Linked DNA regions of Homo sapiens: region 2 is linked to region 1. Evidence: fine-mapped expression QTL. A gene starts in region 1. The other region holds a variant in brackets. All regions are shown on one strand. Distances are from middle to middle. Region 1 holds the start of NRG4 (neuregulin 4). Region 2 has its middle 2.0 kb from the start of TMEM266.

What was found.
Region 2: its variant is fine-mapped to the expression of NRG4 in lung (GTEx, PIP 0.97).

Annotation. Positions count from the first base shown.
Region 1 is chr15:76,010,634-76,013,558 of GRCh38, reverse strand. NRG4 (neuregulin 4) reads left to right here and starts at 1,135. Exons shown (of 6, transcript NM_138573.4): 1 at 1,135-1,240; 2 at 2,273-2,338. The coding sequence starts at 2,329.
Region 2 is chr15:76,056,512-76,059,436 of GRCh38, reverse strand. It overlaps a transcript of NRG4 not described here. Among named protein-coding and RNA genes, the nearest start is that of TMEM266, 2.0 kb to the left of the region's middle. RefSeq lists a silencer at 410-459 and enhancers at 1,943-1,992, 2,183-2,232, 2,293-2,342. The variant A/C (reference allele first, on the strand shown) is at 1,666.

The sequences.
Region 1 (2,925 bases):
GAGAATACATGGACACAGGGAGGAGAACATCACACACTAGGGCCTGTCGGGGTGGGGGGCTAAGGGAGGGATAACATTAGGAGAAATACCTAATGTAAATGACAGGTTGGTGGGTGCAGGAAACCAGCATGGCACTTGTATACCTATGTAACAAACCTGCATATTCTGCACATGTATCCCAGAACTTAAAGTATAATTTTAAAAATGTAATAATGAACATTTTTTTTTTTTTGAGACGGAGTCTCACTCTGTTGCCCAGGCTGGAGTGCAGTGGTGCAATCTCAGCTCACTGCAAGCTCCGCCTCCCGGGTTCACACCATTCTCCTAATGAACAGATTGTTTTTAGAGTATTTGATTTTGAGTTTATTTTAATATTTTCTTAAAACAACAAAACAAACTTATTAGTTTGGGCTTTACATCAGTCAAGTAATAATGTCTGAATTGTCGTTTTAGAAAAGATAACCATCTAAATGTTTGGCATATTTTAGATAATTATATGATGAAGAACTCTATATTCATTTAAACAAAATTACAGTTTTAGTCAATATTTTAAAATTGTTTATGATTTTTAAAACTTAACTTTCCTCACTGTATATTTAACAACTTTGCCATAGCATTCAGGCATTACACTGTCATTGGTATTAGTCAAGTTCAGTGATTTTATTCATTTCAAATTGAACTTGGTGTTACAAGTTTTATTATAGCTATTACCTTCTTTTAGCTTTATAAGTTCTTCAGGTCATTATTTATATAAATTTTATCTGGCTTGTAAGGTAACACAAACCTCATAAAACATAAATTTAAAAAAATGTTTTTTTAATTTGTGAAACACTTATCTATTAGCTCCACATTAAAATTTCTTTTCTCCCAAACTTACACTACGTCTTGAATTATTCAGACAAGCAAAGATAAGTAAGGAGTCTAAGGAATGTGGTTTGGTTTTTACCTTTAAAACGTGGACAGTAATTTGGAAGTGCAGCTTAGTTCAACTCCTTTTCTAAATAAAATTCTGCTCCATTTGCAACTCTGAACACGTAAATTGAAGGGGTGGCTCCCGTGGCCAGTGCCTGACCTCTGTGCACACCTTGGTCTGGCGTGACCTCGCCCACACTGCACACTGCAGCCATATAAATCAGATTTTTGACATGTTATAAAATGCAAGTCACAGCTGCTGTTGTCTGCGGTATTCAAAAACTTTTGAAACACTGCATGTCCAACAAAATTTATTTTTTGTGTGAATGTAAGTTTTTATTGAGGGTAAGTCCTGTTTGTTTGGAAAAAAGAAACAGTATGAGTCAGTGCTTTTTAAAAATCAAATAGATTTAATGTTCTCCTTCCTGCCTGTTCTCGCTCGTGTGTGTTTCTCTCGATTGCTTGCTCGCTTTCTCTGCCTCTCTGCTTGTCTAAGAAAGAGCTGTTGGCTTTGAGAGAAGACCTTGGTATTACAACTGTGTTAGTAGATTGAGATTTCTGTTAGAGTCTTTCTGTTTAGGTCAGAAGTGTTCTTTATAGAACAGAACTGGGAGCTTGTAATCATAATGTAAGTATAAATGCTTCACCTCTTCAAATATATGTTTGAATTCTTTTGTTTCTGTTATAGCAGGAAACTTCATATGTAAGAATGTCTTATTAGCTACATTGCTTTGCCAGATGCCAGACATTTTTGTGTGTGTGTGGGGTTAACATTTTTTTTCTTTTTTAAATTTAATTTTAAGTTCCGGGATAGATGTGCAGGACGTGCAGGTTTGTTACATAGTGTGTTTATAACATGTGTGCCATGGTGGTTTGCCGCACCTATCAGCCCTGGACATTTTTTAGAAGAAAGGTTTGCATAGGTTGGTAAATGTAATGTGCAATCTATGGTAAACTTAAAAGTGCTTTTATAAAAGTTTTAAAGGTTCAGTTCATTCAGTTTTACTTACTGTCTCATCGTTCATGTAAAATTCCATGTAGTACTCTACTATGTTAACAATGTTTACGAAAAAAAGCCTTATTAGACTTTTCTGCAGAGAGATATTTAAGATTAAATTACATTATTTAGGCAATGATTTATATTAAGTACGTTATTGATCTTTTAGTTTTGTTCATATTTTTTACTGAAATGCAATAGGTATCTAAAAATGCTGTAACTAAAATTTGTCCCTAGTATATAAATGTCTTTATTATTTTATTTTCAACATTTAAGAATATTGCTATTAGAATATTTGACATTTTATAATGCCCTTAAAAGAAGACTATTTTCCCTGAATTATTACTTTTTAAACCGTTTTAGGTACTGTTTTTCAACCCTACTCTCTTGACCAAGAATGAAACTATTTACAAATTAAGATGCCAACAGGTAATTTCTTATATATTTATATGTTTTTGTCAATATGTGTCCATAGCAATAGAACAACAATCAAAAATGTATATTAACACAAGGCTGTATTATTCCCTTCCAACATCATTGGAAGAGATGTGAATATGAAATTAATATTTCAAATATGAAATATTTGGTTTTGAGAGACCTTCCTTTGTGACATAAAGCTATTTTATTTTAGATATATGTGTTTTATTGGTTTTATAACCTGATAAATTCTAGCTTGTCCTATATCTGAAATCAGCTCAAATAATAAGGAAATAGAAGTCAGAATAAAAGTAGATTCAGAAATAATGATTCAGGTTAGATGAGTTTTCTTTATTGATAAAATAAATGCCAAGTGTTGAGATATGTCTGACTATAATCCAATTAAAACAAGGACACTAATCTTAGCTGTGATAAAGTTACATTCCACCCTCAGTGGAAAACCATATATGATGACGCCTTTGATGCTGATGTAATGTTAATTTTATTTTTTAGCCAAATTATTCCTGAAAAATTTTATAATCTTGTTGAAAGTTGTTTGATTACGAAGAAGCATGGCATTGTGTAAAAAAGAAAAAAAT
Region 2 (2,925 bases), 46 kb before region 1:
AGAGCTCTTTCCCAGTTGCTCCGTTTCATCCGCGCGGGGCGCCCGGTGAGGGAGCGGATGGCACGCAGTGCCCGCTGCGCTTGGAGGCCACCGAGGGGAAAACACCTCTTTCTGTGTGGCCGGAGTCATAGCACGGTCAGAGTGCCTTGACTCTCAGTTGGCTGCCTGGGAGAAAAATACCTGTCAGTACATTCATTTGATGGCCTCAGCTCAGGACCCTTGTAGGACCGTGTTTCTCCTCTTTTTCCGTTTTTCGTTATCTGACTCTTAAAAAGGCTTTTTACACGTCCCCATCTCCTTTCCCCGTGAAATCCCAGTACCGCAGATACACTGTCGACCTGCTTATGTGCTGTATGTGTTATCCGTGCTTGATGCATAAAAAGTAACATTGCGCCCCTTGGAGGCAGCATCGCCCCGGTGGAGAAGCCTGTCCTAGGGCCATGATTGCCAGTTACCGGGTGGGTTAAACGGAACCACTGAGCAATCTGGATGCACCCACAGATATTCTCTGTGGTTAAAAAAAAAGTCCTCACCCATAATGGGTACTACTCTAATTAATGTTTGCAAGGGCTGCTGTGAATACGGCCATTTAAGCAGCTTCTGGATTCATAGTAGCTTATTATCGTTTGTCTTCTCCACCAATTCTTGCTAAAAATATAGCCATTTTCCTATAGGGTGTTGCGATTTTTATCTTAAAATATTTGAAAAGATGGGAAACCCTTGTTTCTAGGACACGGAGTTTCAGAATGGCTTTTGGCTCTGCAGATAGGTTTGATTTCTGATTCTTGTACCTCTTCTAAAGTGTTTTTATTTGATTAGGTCCAGTTGGCCTCCCAGGAATGTCCTTTGTCTTTTCTTCCTGCCGTAGCTTTTTTAGTATGGATAAAATGAAAATGGTAGAGTTGAAGGACTTCAAAACCACCTCTTGGAATTGCCCCACGGTCTTGGACTACCTTCCCTGGATTATACGGGAATATCTATACAGGGAGTATCTACTTTTGGCAAACTGAGAAAAAAATGTAAAATTTCTTCAGATCCTCCTTCGCCTTTCAGCATTTCCTACTCATCTCTAATCTCTAATGGTGGAATTTCAGAGGAAGAAACACTTGGAGATGATACTTGTGGAAGCTACCTGGGTTGCCAAAGGATTTTTCTACATTTCTAGACGGAAGAAATGTGGACTAGAATAGAGAAAGTGGAGATGGGTTAAGAAAAATTAATGGAGGATGCACGGGAGGGGAGCTATAGTTTTCTGACAGTCAGTGACAGCATTTTAACTAGGTACACTTTCTTTAGAAAAAGCTTTGGCATAGCTTGCCCAGATTGTTATCCACTCCATTTTCCACCTTAGTAGAACTCTACTTAAGATTTGATTGAAACTATTGAGAAGCATCCAGTTATAACGCTAATTAACTCTCAGAGTACGACAAGTATTTTGAAACTTGCTGAGAGAAATTTGAAGACCACTTCAAATTTCTACCAGGAATCTTTGTATCCTAATAAAATTTTTTTGAATTCGGGTTCATGCGACTTCAAGGGAACATTTTTTTCTACAATGGCTATTTATAGTATAATAGCCATTGTAGAAAATATTTATATTTATAAATATTTATATTATGTATTTATAATATAATAGCCATTGTATTGAAAATTACATGCTAATAA[A/C]GTTTACGTGTGTCTTAAGTGTTCTGGGTTTTGTCCTTTTCTGAGTAATCCGAGTTAATGGAAATTGTAGGTGCAACCATTTCATGTTGTAGTGTGAAGTCAAAAATCCCAAAACATGTATAATTTGTCAACTCTATGCTGCCCCCTGGTGATGTCTTACTTCACAGCACCTCCCCAAACTAAAATCTCCCTTCGATAAATTTTTTAGGGTATTGAAAACTTAAGTGTGGACGAGATGCCATTCTGCATTCTTCAAACTGGGCCTTCTCTTGTTTTCAAATACCCTGAGGCCTAACACCGGAGGAGGATTAGCCCTTGAGGCTGATGAGGCTAGAGGAACTGTGAAGATCTGCCACAGATCTCACTTTCACTTGGAGCATTATTCTTGAACTTAACTGGCTTATAAGACTCACTTGGGAACACTTGCTTAAAATCAGATTCTGTGAGTCATAAATTCAGCTGATTAGAAAAAAAAATCGGATTCTGGAGCCTCCTTTCAAACACCTTGAAATCTAATATCAGGGGGTTGACTTGTGATTTTTTTTTTAACTGCCCCAGGTGATTCTTATTGACAGGAGAGGGTGGGGGAATCCTAGAGCTATAAATAGTACAGGTGCTGCTTCAGTACACTGCAGGTGACTAATGAGAGGAATTTTGTGAGTAAAGGAGCTTAGTAGCAACAGGAAAGTATAAGAGCTGTAAAGCAGAAGTGGAACTGTGGGTTTAAGCTTGGTATATCACTTCCTTGCCAGACATAACTGTTCGTTTCTAACGTGGCTGTAGTTGGCATTCTCTCTCATACCAAGATACCTTTTGAGGTAAGTCAGATTTTCTTTTAGTTAAAAAGACTGCCTTTTCAAGAGTACCAGGATCACATAAATGGAAAATTTGTACATGTATGTAGCTGCAAGATTATGGGAGGATAGATTAGAGATGATGTTGATCCTGTGAATGTCTGAAAAAGATTGGTAGCAGAGTTAAAGCTTTTGTTCTCTTGAGATAGTTGCTTGTGAAAATAGAACAAGTGAATCTGATGCCATGTGATTTGTGAAAATTTGAATAATGCCCAAAGTCCTTAAATTGTTAATGTGATATAAATGTTAATATTTTGAAAGCTCTTCTAAATGTTATAATATAACCTCACTTATTTGGAATGTACAGGTAGAAAGCCAATCTGAGTTGGTAAAAGCCTGAAAAATGGAATATATGTGACTTTGTGTGGTATTTATTTTAAATTTGAGTACATACAATATCTAAGTC